Linked DNA regions of Homo sapiens: region 2 is linked to region 1. The links come from fine-mapping of genetic effects on gene expression. Tissue or cell type: whole blood. Region 1 holds a variant in brackets; the other region holds the start of a gene. All regions are shown on one strand. Distances are between the middles of the regions.

What was found. PIP is the estimated chance that this variant, and not a neighbour inherited with it, causes the effect.
Region 2: it holds the start of ATP23, and the variant in region 1 is fine-mapped to the expression of ATP23 in whole blood (INTERVAL, PIP above 0.99).

Annotation. Positions count from the first base shown.
Region 1 is chr12:57,916,439-57,926,593 of GRCh38, forward strand. No RefSeq gene overlaps it. Among named protein-coding and RNA genes, the nearest start is that of GIHCG, 15 kb to the right of the region's middle. The variant C/T (reference allele first, on the strand shown) is at 5,117.
Region 2 is chr12:57,937,305-57,947,459 of GRCh38, forward strand. It overlaps ATP23 (ATP23 metallopeptidase and ATP synthase assembly factor homolog), which reads left to right and starts at 4,263. Exons shown (of 6, transcript NM_033276.4): 1 at 4,263-4,584; 2 at 8,324-8,369; 3 at 9,691-9,772. The coding sequence starts at 4,398. RefSeq lists enhancers at 4,132-4,941, 5,398-5,567.

The DNA of each region.
Region 1 (10,155 bases):
TAGTTTGGCAACATCTATGAAAACTACATATAAGTTTACCCTTTGACCCAGTGATCTTACTTCTTTTTGTTGTTGTTGCTTTTTGAGATGGAGTCTTACTCTGTTGCCCAGGCTGGAGTGCAGTGGTGCGATCTCAGCTCACTGCAACCTCCGCCTCCTGAGTTCAAGCCATTCTCCTGCCTCAGCCTCCTGAGTAGCTGGGATTACAGTCGTGTGCCACCATGCCTGGTTAATTTTTGTATTTTTAGTAGGACCGAGTTTCATCATGTTGTCCAGGCTGGTCTCGAACTCCTTACCTCAAGTGATCTGCTTGCCTCAGCCTCCCAAAGTGCTGGAAATTCAGGCATGAGCCACTATGCTCAGCCTCAATGATCTCACTTCTAAGAATTTAACCTGAAGAAACATCTTCAACAATATAAAATGGCACGTGTAAGATTTTATTTGCAGTATTATTTGTAATTGCAAAATGGAAATAACCTAAATGTGTATACACGAGAATACAGAGTGAATAAATTATATTATATTACATACACATAATAGCATATTAGGCAGCTTTTAAGGAGTGATTTTCAGGCTTTGCTGCAAGTGAAAAAAGCAAAGAGCAAAAGAGAATAATAGTATGCCACTACCATAGATAAGAAATAGGGGGACACAATACACATATATCTACTTCCTTTTAAGAAAAAGACATATTAGAAGGACAAAACAGAAAGGACTGAAATTTGTTACTTGCAGGGGGAGAGTGGGAACAGAATGGAAGTAATACGGAGAGAGAATGACACATTTCCAATCCAGTGTATTATTTTGACTTTTGGAATCATGTTAATGCTTTACATGTTTATAAAATAATCAACAATTTTGGGGAAGAAGTCCTAAAATTGGATACAAATAGAAACAAAGAAACTGAACTGTACATAAAATGGAGAATCACACAGAAGGAAAAAGAAACCCAACTTACTCAAGTAACATTTGGACAAAGTATCTTGACTATATATCCTGAGTTTAAAAACAAAAGAGCTGTGAGAAATTTTGAGCTCTACTTGACAGCTTTATTGTTGGTGGTGGCACAGGTGTAGCAGTTCTGAAATTATTTTTTGTATCTTATAGTACTGAGAAAATAATTACATTAATAATTGTTGGAAGCCAGAGTTCTTGCTTAGAGGAGGGAGATTCCAATACAGAATGGGGAAAGGTAAGGAAGAACCTTGTGGTGGTGCTGGATTGGCATGGACTCATGCTTTTTTTTCTCTCTCTCTTTTTAAAACAAACAAAACAAAACAAAACAACATCCTAGCTATGTTTGCTGAAAGAGCAAGTTTCAATGAAGAGATTTGGTTTCCAAATCTTGTTTTCAAAAAATCATTCTCTGCTATAAGGAACCAGAGCTTCTTGAAGATGGGACTGTTTTCATGGCTAGAGGAGGGAAAATGCAACATGGGCCTGAAAAACTTGCTAGGCCAGAAAGTAAAGAAGTGCTAAAAAAGCATGAAATTATGTCAAAATGACACAGAAGCCAGTTGATGGGCTTTCCCTGGCTAAACCTGGGATAATTTGAGCATCAAAATAAGTGGTGACATTAATGGATTACATCCCACTGAATAAAATAGAATCCGTGAATTCATACTGACACTAAAAAACAAGCAAGCAAGCAAGCAAATGCAGATAGGGAAGGGAGAAGGAGGGCTTTTTAGAGCAGGGTGTCAACTAATGTAGAAGTAATGATGAGTTAGAAAGTCACCATTTATGCAATTACTGTGGAGTACTGTTAAGTATGCAACAGCAACGAAAGGGGCCCCAGGTGGGGAAGAACAGTGAAAAATTGTTCTGAGAGATGGCTAATCAAACAACCCAAGGGCACAACGACCTTGTGGCACAAACACCTGTTCCGCAAGTAGCTCCCTCCAGCATGGCCCTATAAAACTTCCTTCCAGCCCTTGCCTCTTTGCAGGAGCTTTGCACACAGAACTCCTTCTCTGCTGTGCTGCCTGTTGCATCCTTGCAAGGCAATTGTCATATCTTAATCTTCCTTTCTTTACCTACAATTGTCTTGGTAAATTCCTTTACAGCCTGCGCCACTAGCCCTAGATAGTCACACCTGCAACAATTACAGTAGTAATAATTTATTCAGGCAAGAATTGTCAGTGGATGCTGGAAGTTGGTAGAAAATTTATTGGAGAAGCGGATATTTACACAGTCCCAAAGTATATTCCTACATATTATTTATTAAATACAAGGAGAAAAAATGAGGACAAATCTAGTGGAAACCACTTTAATCAAGTGATCAAGGTCAAAAACATCCTCCCAAATAATACAAACTGACTGTAGGTGTGTCCTGATGTGATGAACATAAATTGCTTATGTAGTGTCTCTGCCAAAAATGTATAACTTTAATTGAATCACAGGGAAACAATGGGGACAAAACAATGGGCCTGTATTCTTCAAAAATGTCACTGTCATGAAAGACAAAGCAAGGCCAAAAACTGTTCCAGATTAAAAGAGACTGAAGAGACATGACAACTACATGAAATATGTGATTTTAGATTGTAAAAAAAGATTTGTATAAAGGATAATATTGGGAAAACTGGGGAAATTTGAAGATAGAATGTATATTAAATGACTTCCAAAGTTGTTTAAGCATTTATTATCATATATAACAATAATCTAGAGATAAGACATGTCCTCAGTGACCTCATTACCTGTGGGCCCAGGTGTCTCCCATCTTTCTGCTCTGCCATCCTCAGCAGGTTGGCTTTTCCACTGAGGCTGGTTTCTCATATTCTCCTAAGTACATACATGCTGATGTACTTAGGAGAGAAGGGTCATAATCTCTGCAATAAGCCTCAAAAGGTTCAGCAAAAACAAAATAAATACATATAATTCACATATGTACTAAAATATCTTCCTGAAAAGTATATAAAACATGGTATATAAAATATACTATAACATTTTCTGTGAAGTTTTTAGGCCAGATTCCATATTTGCCCGTCAAATGGACTGTCTTTAGTTCCTTTAGTTTGTTATAGGGGTAGCTAAAAAAGTAAAATGCAGCGTAATGCATCTATAATGCCTTTCAGGCTAAAGGTGACAAGCTTCATCTCTTTTTTAAAGAAAGCAGGATATTTCCCAAGGTACTAACTTTTCCAGATTGCTCTAATCAAACTCATTTGGTTATAAGCCACTCAAGCTAGTTCAAACAAAGGGTGATAATTGTACTAAGGGGGACCAATTTTCCTGGCATTCGACAAATAGGAGACATACTGGGATTAGGCATCAGACAGACTAGAGCTGGAGAGTGGCTCTGGATTTAAGCAGAAATATGTGGGCCTCAGCTCCCTGCTTTGGCATTAGTGTGAATAATGATACCTTGCATATTTCTGTGTCCAATGGCAGGCCTAGGGATTGGTTACCCTTGAGCTAGGTATCTGATTTGATCAGTTGTGATGCTCTTGCTAAAAGTAACAAAAAGCCCAATCCAAAGTTATTTAAGCATTTATTATCATATATAACAACAATCTAGAGATAGAGCATGTCTTCAGTGACCTCATTACCTGGGGGCCCAGGTGTCTCCCATCTTTCTGCTCTGCCATCCTCAGCAGGTTGGCTTTTCCACTGAGGCTGGTTTCTTTCATGATTCCAAGTTGGCTGTTATAGCTTCAGGTATTACAGGGGTTGACAACACTGGGAGACTGAAAATGAACTGTCCTTCTCTTGTGTCCCATTAAAAAAAAAATTTCTCAAAACAAACAAAAATGGGATACATGTGCAGAACGTTCAAGTGTATTACATAGGTATGCATACATGTGCCATGGTGGTTTGCTGCACCTATTGACCCATTTTCTAAGTTCCCTCCCCTCACCCCTTACCCCATAACAGGTCCTGGTGTGTGTTGTTCCCCTCTCTGTGTCCATGTGTTCTCAATGTTCAACTCCCACTTATGAGTGAGAACATACGGTGTTTGGTTTTCTGTTCCTATGTGTTCCATTTTTAGGGCAGGGAAAAATGTCTCCAGAAGGCGTCCAACAAACTTCCCCTTACATCTCATTGGCAGATTAAGCAAGGCAAATGACAGTCATCGTGGTTGACTTAGACTAATCAAGGTTCATCCTCTTAGGCTGAGAAGGTGCTCAGCCTGTCATAATACATTCGGCTAAGATAACAAAGGAATTTTTCTATTAGGATGGAAAAGGAAAATGGGAGAATGGTATTGAATGCAGTGTTGCACTCCCTGGCCTGATCAGTCATGGTGATGATAAGTGGTTATTTGGTCTAGTAAATTATCTTTTTTTTTTTTTTTTGAGACAGGGTCCGCTCTGTTGCCCAGGCTGGGGTGCAGTGGCATGATCTCAGCTCACTGTAACCTCTGCTTCCTGGGCTCAAGCGATTCTTCAGCCTCAGCCTCCTGAGTATTTGAGACTACAGTCATGAACCACCATGCCCGGCTGTTTTTATAGTATTTGTAGAGATGGGGTTTTGCCATGTTGCCCAGGCTAGTCTTGAACTCCTGAGCAGCTCAAAGCGATTCGTTTGTCAAAGTGCTGGGATTACAGGTCTGAGCTGCTACATCTGGCTAAATTATCCTTTAGGGAAAGAAAATCTGTGCACAAAACAAATTCTCTTAGAAGATGTGGGCAGGCAGGCAATTATTGGCATCTCAAATATACTAATATTTGCCACATCATAAAACATAATGAAGGTAATTATCTGATGGGCATATTATTTTATCTATTTCAAAATACAAAATAGCTTCTTGTTAAATTATACAAATATACAATCCTTTTGAAAAACTTCAGCTATAAACAAAGAAAATAATCGCAGTTGTAAAGAGAAGTGAGAAGTATATTTACTACTATGGTATGATCTTTAGGTCTAGATTTAAGTTAAAAAAACCCAAGGAGGTCAAGATAATGAGAAGACAAGCCACATACTGGAAGAAAATATTTGCAAAAGACATACCTGAAAATGGACTGTTATCCAAAGTAAACAAAGAACTCTTAAAATTCAATAATAAGAAAACAATTTGATTAAAAATTTTTTTTGAACAGACACTTGAACCTGAACAGACACCTCACCAAAGAAGACATACAGATGGCAGATAAGCAGGTATAAAGATGCTCAA[C/T]ATCATATGTCATCAGGGAATTGCTAATTAAAACAATGAGATATCACTACACACTACACCAGCAGGATAGAGAGAGCAAGGAAGTGCCACACTTACTAGAATGGCCAAAATCTAAAACATTGAAAATACCAAATATGGGTGAGGATGTGGAGCAAGAAAAACTCTCATTTATTGCTGGTGGGAATGCAAAATGGTGTAGCCACTTTGGAAGACAGTTGGGCAGTTTCTTACAAAACTAAACATAGTCTTACTAACAATCCAGCGATCGTGCTCCTTGGTATTTACCCAAATGAGCTGAAAACTTTCATCCACACACAAATCTGCACGTGGATATTTATAGCAGCATTATTTATAATTGCCAAAACTTGGAAGCAACCAAGATGCCCTTCAGTAGGTGAATGAATAATTAAACTGTGGTAGATCCAGACAGTGGAATGTATTCAGTGCTAAAAAGAAATGAGCTATCAAGGCGTGAAAAGACACAGAGTAGGCTGGGTTCGGTGGCTCATGCCTATAATCCCAAGACTTTGGGAGGCTGAGGTGGTAGAATTGCTTGAGCCTAGGAGTTTGAGACCAGCCTGGGCAACATAGTGAGACCCATGTCCACAAAAAAGAAAAGACATGGAGTAAACTTAAATGTGGCTAAGCATGGTGGCTCATGCCAGTAATCCCAGCACTTCGGGAGGCCAAGGTGAAAGGATGGCTTCAGTCCAGGACGTTGAGACCAGCTGGGCAACATAATGAGACCTTGTCTCTACAAAAAAATGAAAAGTTAGCCATGGTGGTGGGTGCCTATAGTCCCAGCTTCTCGGGAGGCCAAGGTGGGAGGATCCCTTGAGCCTAGCAGTTTGAGGCAGCAGTGAGCTACGATAGCGCTACTGCACTTCGGCCTGGGTGACAGAGTGAGGCCCTGTCCCAAACAAAAAAACAAATCAACCAACTAACAACAACAACATAAACTTAAATGCACATTACTAAGTAGAGGAAGTTAGCTGAAAAGGGTATATGCTGTGTAATTCCAACTATATGACATTCTGGTAAAGGAAAAACCATGAAGACGGTGAAATGAGCAGTGTTTGCCAGTAGTTATTGGGGAGGGAGGGATGAATAGGCAGCATAGAGGATTTTTAGGACAGTGAAACTATACTTTGTTTTTTTTTTTTTTTGAGACAGAGTCTCGCTCTATAGTCCAGGCCGAAGTGCAGTGGTGTGATCTCAGCTCACTGCAACTTCTGCCTCCTGGGTTTAAGTGATTCTCATGCCTCAGCCTCCCTAGTAGCTGGGACTACAGGTGCGTGCCACCATGCCTGGCTAATTTTTTTGTATTTTTAGTAGAGACTGGGTTTTTCCATGTTGGCCAGGCTGGTGTTGGACTCTTGGCCTCAAGTGATCCATCTACCTTGGCCTTCCAAAGTGCTAGGATTACAGGTATGAGCCACCAAGCCTGGCCTAGAACAGTGAAACTATTCTGTAATGGTGGACATGTTATTATACATTTGTCAAAACTCAAAGGACGTGCAACCCCAAGAGTGAACCCTAATGCAAATGATGGATAATGATATGTAGGCTCATCAATTGTAAAAAAATGTACCTACCACTCTGGTGTGGGATGTTGATGGTGGAGGAGGCTATGCATGTGTGGGGACAGGAGGCAGATGGGAATTCTCTTTACTTTTCTGCTCAGTTTTGCTGTGAACCTAAAACTGCTCTAAAAAATAAAACCTATTAAAGAACAAAACAAAAACAAAACAAGACAAAAAATGAAGGAGAAACCTGAAAATGACATGAAGAAAACAATTCCATTTACATTAGCAGCAAAAAAAGAAACACTTAGGAATAAATTTAACAAAAAGTAGTACAAAACTTGTACTCTGAAAACTAAAAAAGAAATTAAAAGATTATGCTTAAAATAAATTAATGAAGACATAAATAAATGGAAAGACATCTAATGTTCATGGATTGGAATATTTAATGTTGCAAACATGACAATAGTCCCCAAATTGACTTACAGATTAAACACAATCTCTATAAAAACTATTGTATTTGTTTTTATATTATATTAAACTATTATATTTGTGGCTAATTGTTTTTTTAAATAATGGTGCCAACACAATTACATCACAGAAAAAAGGGAAAAGTCTTTTTAACAAATGGTGCTAGGACAACTGAATATCACATACAAAAGAATAAAGTTAGATCCCTACCTCATGCCATAGACAAAAATTAACTCATAATGATGGATCATAGACTTAAATGTAGAAATAGTACTATGAAAATCTTAGAATAAAATGTGGGAGTAGATCTTTGTGATGCTGGGTTAGGCAAAGCCTTCTTAGACATGATGCCAGCACCAGAAGTGACAAATGAACAAGCAGATAAATTGGACTTGATCAAAATTAAAATAAACTACCTTAAAACCCCAATCTTTTGTGCTTCAAAGGACACCATCAAGAAAAGACAATAGGGGCCGGGCGCAGTGGCTCACGCCTGTAAACCTAGCACTTTGGGAGGCCGAGGCGGGTGGATCACAAGGTCAGGAGATCAAGACCATCCTGGCTAACACGGTGAAACCCTGTCTCTACTAAAAATACAAAAAAAAAATTAGCTGGGAGTGGTGGTGGGCACCTGTAGTCCCAGCTACCTGGGAGGCTGAGGCAGGAGAATGGCGTGAACCTGGGAGGCAGAGCTTGCAGTGAGCCGAGATCACGCCACTGCACTCCAGCCTGGGCGACAGAGTGAGACTCTGTCTCAAAAAAAAAAAAAAGAAAAAGGAAAAAAGAAAAGACAATAGAATGGGAGAAAATATTTGCAAATTAAATATTGATGAGACTTATATCCAGAAAAATATAAATAACTCTTAAAACAACAATAAAAAGACAACTCAATTGATAAATGGGTGAAGGATCTGAACAGACATTTCTTCAAAGAGAAGATATACAAATGGCCAAAACGCACATGAAAGATGCTCCATATTTGTACTAGTCCGTTTTCACAGTGCTATAAGGAAACTACCTGAGACTGGGTAGTTTATAAAGAAAAAGGTTTAATTGACTCACAGTTTTGCATGGCTGGGGAGGCCTCAGGAAACTTACAATCATGGTAGAAGGTGAATGGAGAAGCAAGTACCTTCTTCATATGGCAGCAGGAGAGAGAGAGCGAGGAAGTGCCACACTTTAAAACCATCAGCTCTTGTGAGAACTCACTCACTATCAAGAGAACAGCATTGGGGAAACCACCCCCATGATCCAAACACCTCCCACCAAGTCCCTCACTTGACATGTGGGGATTACAATTTGAGATGAGATTTGGGTGGGGACACAGAGCCAAACCATATCAATATTATAGACCATTAGGGAAATGCAAACCAAACCACAATGAGATCCCACTTCATTTCCACTAAGATGGCTATAATAAAGAAAATGGACAGTAATAAATGGTGTCAAGGATTCAGATAAATTGGAAACCACACTGCTGGTGGGAATATCTTTTTGGGTAATGAAAATGTTTGAAAATTAATTGTTGCGATGGTTGCATAGCTTTGTGAATATACTAAAAACCACTGACTTGCATAATTTAAATGAGTGAATTGAGTGCATAGTCTGCTGCCATTTTTTAAATTAATTAATTAATTTATTTTTGAGACAGAGTCTAGCACTGTCACCCGGGCTGGAGTGCAATGGCATGATCTCGGCTCACTGCAACCTCCGCCTCCTGGGTTCAAGTGATTCTCCTGCCTCAGCCTCCTGAGTAGCTGGAATTACAGGCGCGCACTACCACGCCCAACTAATTTTTTGTATTTTTAGTAGAGACAGGGTTTCACTATTTTGGCCAGGCTGGTCTTGAACTCCTGACCTCCTGATCGGCCTGCCTTGGCCTCCCAAAGTGTTGGGATTACAGGTGTGAGCCGCCGCACCCAGTGCCATTTATATTTAAAGAGAGGATGGATATATATACATATATCTGAAATATTGCTTATACTTTAAAAAATGGAAGGACAAGCAATAAAAATAAATGGCCATTTATATAATAAGAAATGGGGGTGCATTTATGGAATGAAGTAGAAGCTAGATTTTTCTCAAATAGACCTTGTTTTATAGACTTTAGAACCACACAAATAATTTATATAATTATAAAACAAAATTAAAACTAAAAATGCAACCCCTAAAAATTGAAATCACAATTAAGCACATCAGCCTGTGTACTGAGCTAGTGGCATAATCACACGTGAGAAACTTTTCCAAGTAACATTATTATTATTATTTTAATTATTATTATTATTTTTTGAGATGGAGTCTTGCTCTGTCACCCAGGCTGGAGTACAGTGGCACAATCTTGGCTCACTGAAATCTCCGCCTCCTGGATTCAAGCAATTCTCTTGCTTCAGCCTCCCAAGTAGCTGGGATTATAGGCATGTGCCACTCTGCCCGGCTAAGTTTTGTATTTTTTGCAGAGATGGGGTTTCAGCATGTTGAACAGGTTGGTCTTGAACTCCTGACGTCAAGTGATCTGCCCAGCTTGGCCTCCCAAAGTGCTGGGATTATAGGTGTGAGCCACTGCACCTGGCCTCCAAGTGACTTTAAAACATACTAATTGACTATACATCCCTATTGGAATATACCCTAATCAGAAAAAGAATTGCAAAAAAGTCCCCCCAAAACAACAACAAAAAACCCAAACTATGTTCAGTGATCATATTGTGGTGGTGCTGTGAAGATTGTTATTCTGAGACTATTCATGATGGGAAAAATAAATAGGTAATTACGGTGGGATTTTAGGCACAGGGGAAAAGGAGATACAGATGTGAGGTTGATGAAGATAGTCCTGGTTTTGAATTGGATACAGCAATAAAACTCATGTTGTTTTATATCTTTAAAACAACAACATTTCCTAGCTCCACCCACTGCAAAGGTCTAGAAACAATGAACTGGTCATGAATGACCCAGTAGGAATAAGCATCCATTCTAGATTGTGGCCTCTAAAATACCATTTCCCACTGAGAAGAATTAGGGTTCCTTGGAGACATGCTGATTCCACATCTG
Region 2 (10,155 bases), 21 kb after region 1:
TGTAGTGGCCCGATCTCGGCTTACTGCAACCTCTCCACCACCTGGGCTCAAGCAATTCTCCTGCCTCAGTCTCCTGAGTAGCTTGGGATTATAGGCGGCGCCACCACACCCAGCTAATTTTTGTATTTTTAGTAGAGATGAGGTTTCACCATGTTGGTCAGGCTGGTCTCGAACTCCTCATCCCAAGTGATCTGCCTTCCTCGGTCTCCCAAAGTGCTGGGATTACAGGCATGAGCCACCCGCGCCCAGCCTGAATTTTTTTTTTTTTTGAGCTGTTGTCTTGCTCTGTCGCCCAGGCTGGAGTGCAGTGGCGCGATCCCAGCTCACTGAGGCAGGAGAATTGCTTGAACCCAGGAGGCAGAGGTTGCAGTGAGCCGGGATGGCGCCACTGCACTCCAGCCTGGGCGACAGAGCAAGACTCTGGCTCAAAAAACAAAAAAACAAAAAAACAAAACAAAACACCCAAAAACTTTTAATGAACATATTTTGTTTAAAAAAGACACTTAACATGGTTGTATATATTCCATTATACCTCTTGTTGGATATTTAAACAATTGATGTCTTCCCCTGCCGCCCCTTTTTTTTGAGGAGGAGGTGTCTTGCTGTATCACACAGGCTGGTCTTGAACTTCTGGGCTCAGGCAGTCCTCCTGCCTTAGCCTCCCAAATAGCTATGATTACATGCCACTGGCCTGGCCATTTTTGCTCTCAATTAGTGCTGCAATGGAGAAATGAAAATCCTTATAGCTAAATCTTTGCCCTTGCTCTAATTTCTTTGTGGTAATTCTTTTTCTTTTTAAAACTCATTTGTATTTGCTGTTCATTATCTCTTCCTTAATGTGTTTTTATTCCATACCTATGTCTTTATACTGTATACAGATGAAGTTACACATGGCATCCAAAGCCCACTTGATTTTTTAAAGTTTATTTTTCTGATTATAAAGGTAATACATGCTTATTGAGGAACATTAGAAAATTTCAGGAGAATGTAACAAAAAAATTCCAATACCTAGACAACCATTGATACTGTGGTATGAATTTTTTTCCATCTGTTTCTTCAACAATGAGTATTGAAACAGTTTTAGCTAATTTAGTAAGGAAATGTTGCAGCTTTTGGTTTGTACGTTTTTACTTATTCCTGTAGCTGAAGGGTATTGCAAATAGTATCCAGAAATAAAGCCACATACCTACAACCAACTGATCTTAGACAATGACAACAAAAACATATAATGGGAAAAGACACTCTATTTAATAAATGGTGCTACACAAAGTGGATAGACATGCAGAGGAATGAAACTGCACCCCTTTCTTTCACCATATACCAAAATTAACTCAAGATGAATTAGAGTTAAATTTAAGACCTGAAACAATAAAAACCCTAGAAGAAAACCTAGGAAAAACTCTTGTGGAGATTGACCTAGGCAAATAATTTATGAGCAAGTCCTCAAAAGCAAATGCAACAAAAACAAAAACAGACAAATGAGTTTCATTAAGCTAAAAAGCTTCTGCATAGTAAGATAAAGAATCAAATAACCTACAGAATGGAAGAACATATTTACAAACTGTGCATCCAACAAAGGACTAATATCCAGAATCTACAAGGAACTCAACCAGAAAAAACTAAATAACCCTATTCAAAAGTGGGCAAAAGACAGGAATAGACATTTCTCAAAAGAAGACATACAAGTGGCTAATAAACATGATAAACTTCTCAACATCACTAATCATCAGAGAAATGCAGATTAAAACCACGGTGAGATACCATCTTGCACCAGTCAGAATGACTATTATTAAAAAGTCAAAAAACAACCCGATATTGATGAGAATTCAGAAAAAAGAGATTGCCTATACACTGTTGGTGGGAATGTAAATTAGTACAACCTCTGTGGAAACTAGTATGGAGATTTCTCAAAGAACTAAAAATAGAACTACCATTTGACCCAGCAATCTCACTACTGGCTACCCAAAGGAAAACAAATTGTGACTGGGTGTGGTGGCTCATGCTTGTAATCCTAGAGCTTTGGGAGGCTGAGGCAGGAGGATCACTTGATGCCAGGAGTTTGAGACCAGCCTGAGCAATATAGCAAAAAACCTCCATCTCTACAAAAAATTAAAAAGTTAACCAGACATGATGGTGCATGCCAGTAGTTCTAGCTACTCGAGAGACTGAGGTGGTAGGATTGCTTAAGCCCAAGAATTCAAGGCTGTGGTGAGCTATGATTACGCCACTGCACTCCAGCCTGGGTGACAGAGCAAGAACCTGTCTCTGAAAAAGAAAAAAAAAAGAAGAAATTGTTATGACAAAAAGACAAAGACATAGAATCAACCATTAACCTAAGTGTCCACCAACAGATGGTTAAAGAAAATGTGGTTATGCATACACCACGGAATACTATGCAGCCATAAAAATAATGAAATCATGTCTTTTGCAGCAACATGGATGGAGCTGGGGGCCATTATCCTAAGTGAAATAACTCAGAAGCAGAAAATCAAACACCCCATGTTCTCACTTATAAGTGGAAGCTAAAGACTGAGTGCACGTGGACATACAGAGGGGAATAATAGACACTGGGGACTCCAAAAGTGGGGAGAGTGGGAGGGGAAGGGTGAGGGTTGAAAAATTAACTATTGGGTACAATGTTCACTGTTTGGGTGATGGGTACACTAGAAGCCCAGACCTCACCACTACACAATATATCTGTATAATAAACCTACACATAAACCACCTGAATCTATGTATTAAAAAAGAAAGCATGAAAAAAATCCAAATAGTATTTCAAATGTATATAGGCTATGGTCCATTTCTAGGCATATCTAGCCTGCCTTCAGTATTCCAAACTAATCACACTGAATTGTAATGGCTTAGTTTTCCATATGTGTGTTTTAGTTCAATAACTGGATTGAAAGCTAGTTGTGTGGTCCTAGATAAATTATTGAATTTTGCTGAGCCCACTTTATCTGCAAATTAGAGATAATACTTACTTTGCAGGGTTGTAGTGAGGATTGGAAATAATGTATCCAAGGTGAATTTAATTAAAAAGTAGTTACTTTTTTTTTGACTTCTGGCTTTAATAGTCTATGTACATAGGAGTTGTTTGTATTTTTATAATATTCCAGATGAATGACTATCCTAGCATCCCACTCAATTTAGATATTGAGCATCTATGACACATAAAGCACTGTTCATAACCCTAAAGGCCTGCTGAGCCTATATTTTTCAGATATGTTTCTTACATAAACCACATGCTGCTCTTCATCTTTAGCAATTTTCTTAGTCATGTGTTTCCTCAGTCTCTTACACCTTGCCTGGCCCATCATAGTAGGTGCTGAATAAATGTGTGAGCTGAGTGGAATAATTTAGTAGGAAAAGAGAAACACACAAATTGGATAAAACCTGGCAGGCTACGATGAAAATGATTAACAGGTACAAAGTGCTTTGTACATTGGGAGATCAGGAGACATTAATTTTGATTAAGGTATCTGGGAATGCCCTGTGGAGTAGGCAGATTTGACCTGGGCCCCAATCATAGGGGCTGAGGCAAGGAGCTTAAAGATGGAAATGACAGTATGAGTTAAGGCTGAGAGGTAGAAGTAAACAGGGTGCGCTTTGTTATCAGGGAGTTATTGGTGGGGGGTGGGGCAGAAGAGTAGGGTAAACGAATGGGTACAGGTGGGAAGAAAAAATGTAGTTGGTTCCTACATTTTGAGGATTTTGATGTGACTAGTCATTCTTTATAGTTTTAAAACGTTTCTGAAAAACACTGCTTTCAATATGGCCAGAGGCATCTTTGGGCAGAGTGGATCTGAGGGATGGCAGGGGTCGGGAAAGTGGCGGGCCAGAAATGACAACTGGCTTGCCCCGGAAGAAGGCAGGGAGTGGGAGGATGGCCGAGACCTTCGGCGGCACAAGAGCAGTTAGTGGCCAATATTCGCCCCGAGGTGAGGAAGGAGTGTCTGCGAGGAGGCGGGACACCCTTAGAGCTCAGCAGGCAGCAGGAAGCTGCAGAACAACGCTTATAAAGACATGTCACCCACACTGGGAGGGCAGCAGCGAAATCCGCGGCAGCCGGGTTGTTACAGCCTTTGAGGGAAGTCGCAAGACCCAGCTCCGCCCAACAGCATCGGGCCCCGCGCCCCGCCCCATGCCCTCGCCCCGCCCCTCATCCCTCGCCCCGCCCCTCGCCTCTCGCCCCGCCCCTCGCCTCTCGCCCCGCCTCCCGCGCTCCCCGTCAGGTTCAAAGCCCCCTCCCGCCTAACGTCTTCAGCCCAGCCAGGCTGCCCTTCTTCCCTGCGGAGGGAGGGCCTGGGCGGTCGCGTTGGCGGGAGGGAGGTTACCTTTCCCAGTCTCGCTCTGGCCGCCTGAGCCAGGAGGAAGCAGCGGCGAGGTCTGCGGGAGGCATGGCGGGAGCTCCGGACGAGCGCCGGCGGGGCCCCGCGGCAGGGGAGCAGCTGCAGCAGCAACACGTCTCTTGCCAGGTCTTCCCCGAGCGTCTGGCCCAGGGGAATCCCCAGCAAGGGTTCTTCTCCAGCTTCTTCACCAGCAACCAGAAGTGCCAGCTTAGGCTCCTGAAGACGCTGGAGACAAGTAGGAGCCATGACCTGGAGGCTGTGGTTCCACAGAATGGGTCTGAGACCGGGTGGGCGAGGAAGGGCCTGGGCAACACCTGGCCAGGGGCTTCAGGTTCAGCACAGAGTCTAGACAGACTGGGCATCATGGGGGCTGGGTTGGGAGCCTGAGGCTCAGTTTCCCCACTAGAGGTGGCGCTGAGACCCTTTTCGTCGCTGTTTTTGGCTTGTGGAATGAATTTGTCTGCCCTTTTTTGTCACTCACTGTTGTGACAGATCCTCCGATTTCTTACATAAGTTATGCAGCCACACTGTGACTTCAGGGTAAGGGTGAGGCCAAGTTTTAAAGTGCCAGCCAGGTTAATTAAGGCACACAAAGGCTGTAAAAATGTAAAAATGTAATTAAGGCATACCAAGGCTGTAAAAATATAAAAGCAGTTTTGCAAACCTACCGTTCCTTGGAAGTGGTTCATGCATGAATGGGCTTCAGAGCGTAGAAATCCCTGAAATGGTCTGTGAAATCGTGTGTATGTGTGTGTGTGTGCCCCTAAGTGCATTTTTTTTTTTTTTTTGAGACGGAGTCTCGCTCTGTCGCCCAGGCTGGGGTGCAGTGGCGCGATCTTTGCTCACTGCAAGCTCCGCCTACTGGGTTCACGCCGTTCTCCTGCCTCAGCCTCCCGAGTAGCTGGGACTACAGGCGCTCGCCACCACACCCTGCTAATTTTTTGTATTTTTAGTAGAGACGGGTTTTCACCGTGTTAGCCAGGATGGTCTTGATCTCCTGACCTCGTGATCTGCCTGCCTCGGCCTCCCAAAGTGCTGGGATTACAGGCGTGAGTCACTGCGCCCGGCCCAAAGTGTATTTTTTTTTGGTCGGGGGAGAGAGTTAATAGCTTCATCATATTCTCAAAGAGGCCAACGACCCCACAAAGGTTAAGAACTGCTGTGGGTTAAACAGGGACACAACTGCCCATTGACAAATTTCTCTCCCGTCCCAGAGACATTGCACTAGAGAAGATTTCTTAATTCCTTTACATTGACATAGACTTCTTAAGTTTACTTTCAGATACATTCAGAAAATTAGTCTTAAACATACTTGTCCCAAAGCAAGGTTACTATTTCATAGCTAGTCAGTCACAGTTCAAAAGTCAACCACCGAAAGATTTTCCAACCTTCTTGGGATTACCTGCTTGTAGAGACTCAGGGAGGTAGGAGGAGGAAGGGGAGTTGAGGGTAAAAGGGGAGAGAATGATGATATTGTATTTACTGTACAAATATGTATTGAGTGCCTCCCAGGTTCTGGTGGGGGAAGTAGAAAGATGAGTTAGCACCCTGCCTTGAAGGTGCTTCAAAGTGGAATAGAGTGGAAAGAGTATGGGTTGCAGAGTTAGATGTGGGTTCAAATGCGGATCCCTTTCCTCAGGTGTGGAAGGTGACTTAACTTCTCTGATCCTCACTATCCTTATTGTAAAAAAAGAGAAGGGGAAAATACCTTTTTTAGGGTTGTTGTGAAGAATAGATTTTATGGGGCTGGGTACGGTGGCTCATGCCTGTAATCTCAGCACTTTGGGGAGCCAAGGCAGGGGGATTGCTTGAGCTCAGATGTTTAAGACCAGCCTGGGTAATATAGGGAGACCCTGTCTCTACAAAAAATAAAAAAAATTAGCTGGATGTGGTGGCTCATGCCTGCAGTCCCAACTATTTAGGAGGCTGAGGCAGGAGATTTGCTTGAACCCAGGAGGCTGAGGCTGCAGTGAGCTGTTATTGCATCACTGCACTCCAGCCTGGGCAACAGAGCGAGACCCTGTCTAAAAAAAAAAAAAGTACTGATTTTATGAATGTAAAGTACCAGCATATCAGGAGCTGAGCTGAATAAATGGTAGCTGTTTTTACAGTGGAAGGGCCACACAGTGGAGGAAGAGTGGAAATAGATAGGATGTGAGGAAGGTGGGGTGCTGAACATGAGCCCCAGTAGGAATCAATGGACCTTGATCTTCCAAGGGCAGGGTGGCTGGGAGGGTCTTTTGGTGGTATTAAAGTGTCAACCTGCAGCTTTAAAATGCTATCCCTGGGTGGGGCGTGGTGGTGGAAACCAGACCTCATGGGAGTCTCTTTTTTTTTTTTTTTTTTCACCAAAGCAATTTTATTCTAAATATTGCTGCAGGTCCTTTTTGAAGTACTAAACCATGGTTTTTTTTTTTTTTAAGTACAAGGACTACAGACTTTTGAAACTGTTTTAATTTTGTAAAATTCTCCTAGTTGCATGAATAATAATGTGCTTAATATGGTGCCTGCTACCTGGTATTCACTCAATAATACGTATTGTTAACAATAATTATTCTACTGTGAACACTCTTGCAAGGGGCAGGTTGGTAAAGCAGTAACCTATACCTGACTTTCTCATCTCACATTTCTTTTTCTCACCTATTTTTGCCTTCAACATTTTTTTTAAACCTTAGTTTCTTTTTCACTTTTTTTGGGTTACATCATATAATTGGCTGTGCATTTATATTCTCAGACAAGATGCCTATGTGAAAAGTTAATATCAGAGGCATTTGGGCTCCTTGTACTTTCCTGTAGTAGTCACGGGCCCATAGAGTCTTAGATGTGGAAGGGCCCTCAGGAATCGTCTAGGCCTCCCCGTCCCCTTACAGGGAAACCTCTGTGCTATTGCTGGCCAGATACTCTACAGACCTCTCCTGGAATACAGTTACCTGTTCCTTGAGGCTCTTTCAATCTACTGTCTATTGTTTCACCAGCTTTAATTGTTGGAGAAAAATCCTTTCTCATACTGAGCTGAAATCTGCCACATGTAACTTCCATACTTTGGTCCTTGTTCTGCCCTTTGAAGAAATATTAACTGAATCTAGTCCCACATGGCACCCCTTCAATACTTGAAAGTAGTGTGGTCCTAGTTAAGTCTTCTGTCTCCTTTCCAACCCCCCAAATCCTTTCTTGCTTCTTACTGGAAATAGTCTGTAGTACCCTAGTCACCATCCCCTGTGGAAGAGCTTCAGTGGCAGGTCCAATTTAGAAGGTGGTAGTACTCAGCATGGGACATGGTATTGCCGGTATGATCTGATCAGGACAGAACAGTGTGGCTACTGGCTTCCTCAAATCTAGGTACTGTGCTGTTGTTCACTTCTAAGAATGTGGCCCTAGATTCCCTCAGTCTTTTGGTATATACCGTAATACAACGTGTTTGATCATTTAACTAAAAATGAACTTTAAAAGCATAGTTGATATTGTCTAAGATGCTTAGTAGTACCATCTTGGTATTTGTATTAGTGTTTTATTTCAGTACAAACTTGCTTTGATGTTGATTTAAGCTTGGCCTCTCATGTCAATTTTTACCAATTTTAAGATAACATTACTTTTTTTTTGAGACAGAGTCACTCTATCGTCCAGGCTGGAGTGCAGTGGTGTGATCTCAGCTCACTGTAATGTCTGTCTCCTGGGTTCAAGTGATTCTCATGCCTCAGCTTCCCAAGTAGCTGGGACTACAGGCGTGTGCCACCATGCCCAGCTAATTTTTGTATTTTTAGTAGAGACGGGGTTTGCCATGTTGGTCAGGCTGGGCTTGAACTCCTGGCCTCAAATGATCCACCCGCCTCAACCTCCTAAAGTGCTGGGATTACAGGCATGAGCCACTGCATCTGGCCTGTGAGTTACTTTTTGATAATATCTTACACTGCTATTTGGGTAGTTTAATTGGTGCTACTTTTCCAATTACTTAATTAAATCAATATCTTTTTTAGATCCATATGTCAAACTTCTGCTTGATGCTATGAAACACTCAGGTTGGTAAGTAACTCTTTTTGAAGTGCTGCTCTGAGGTCTGGCTGCTGAAAACAAAAACCAAGTTCTCTTCTTAAGAGAACTGCTTAAGATTTCTCTGAGGTCACAAAGTCTTTTCCATAGGGTAAATAGAGGTAATTGGCTGCATTGTCTCCGGGCTGGCCTTGTTCTCTTTGGACATTTTCTGCCCTAACTCATGTTTTTTTTTTTTTTTGGGGATAGAGTCTCGCTCTTGTTGTCCAGGTGGGAGTGCGTTGGTGCTGTCTCGGCTCAGTGCAACCTCCGTCTCCCAGGTTCAAGCAATTCTTCTCCCTCAGTCTCCCAAGTAGCTGGGTTTACAGGCGCACGCCACCATGCCCGGCTAATTTTTGTATTTTTAGTAGAAATGGGGTCTTAGCATGTTGACCAGACTGGTCTCGAACTCCTGTCCTCAAGTGATCCACCCACCTCGGCCTCCCAAAGTGCTGGGATTACAGGTGTGAGCCACTGCGCCAGCCCAGCTCATTTTCTAGTTCTTACCATTCACCTTGGGTGATTAATAAAGACAGTACTCAAAATTTTCTTGTAAGTAATTACCAAGCCTGGCCTTTCTGCTACACCAGCCTGAGCACTGTTTTTAATGGAAAAGAAATCTCAGCTTGTTATGTAGGAACCTTGCAGATGTTGTATAACTTTGAGGGGTTTAAAGGAAGTGACTTCTGACATCCACTTCTTAACATTCTGGCCCAAGGGCAGGAACTCCAGCATACTTGCAATATGGCCATAATCAGTTGAACAAATTTTTTTTTTTTTTTTTTTTTTTTGAGACGTAGTTTTGCTCTTTTTTTTTGCCCAGGCTGGAATGCAGTGGCACGATCTCGGCTCACCGCAACCTCCGCCTCCCGGGTTCAAGAGATTCTCCTGCCTCAGCCTCCTGAGTAGCTGGGATTATAGGCGCCCACCACCACCCGGCTAATTTTGTATTTTTAGTAGAGATGGGGGGTTCTCCATGTTGGTCAGGCTGGTCTTGAACTCCCGACCTCAGGTGATCCACCTGCCTCGGCCTCCCAAAGTGCTGGGATTACAGGCGTGAGCCACCGCGCCTGGGGGACAAATGTTTTATGGAATCATATCTATAGAATTTGAACTAGAATGGATTTTGTGTACAACCTCCTTATTTTACAGGTGAGATAACAGTCCTGAAGATGTTGTTTCTTTCCCAAGATTTCCTATGTGTTAGTAGTAGAGGGGATTTACTATATGGTGGAGGGTCTCCTGAGCCCTGGCCCAGGGCTGTTTGCCACATACACACTGTTTCTGGACATTGTCTCCTTTTCTTGCCTTTTAGTGCTGTTAACAAAGATAGACACTTTTCTTGCGAAGACTGTAATGGAAATGTCAGTGGAGGTTTTGATGCTTCAACATCTCAGGTAGGCATTATTGCCAAATTGTTTCCTTCCCTTTAATCCTCTCTCTTTATATTTTTTGAGCATCTTCCACATGCTCGGCATTCTGTTTGGTAGACTTTATGTAGGACTAAAAAAGTGAATTAGTTATCCTTACTCTAAGGAGTTTACTCTTAAAATCTCTTAAGGAGTTTACAGCCTTACAGGAAAGATAAGACATGAACACAGATAATTATAAAATGAGGCAAGCTAAACCATTTTAGGTGGGCTTGGTTACCACAATGGAACAGTGATGTGATCGATTGAAAGATGCCAACAGATTCGACTAGAGGATATAAAGCCTCCTTAGGGGCAGAGCAGGGACAGAGCAGGGGCAGCATGAGCAAAAGTGCATGCTACGAAACTGC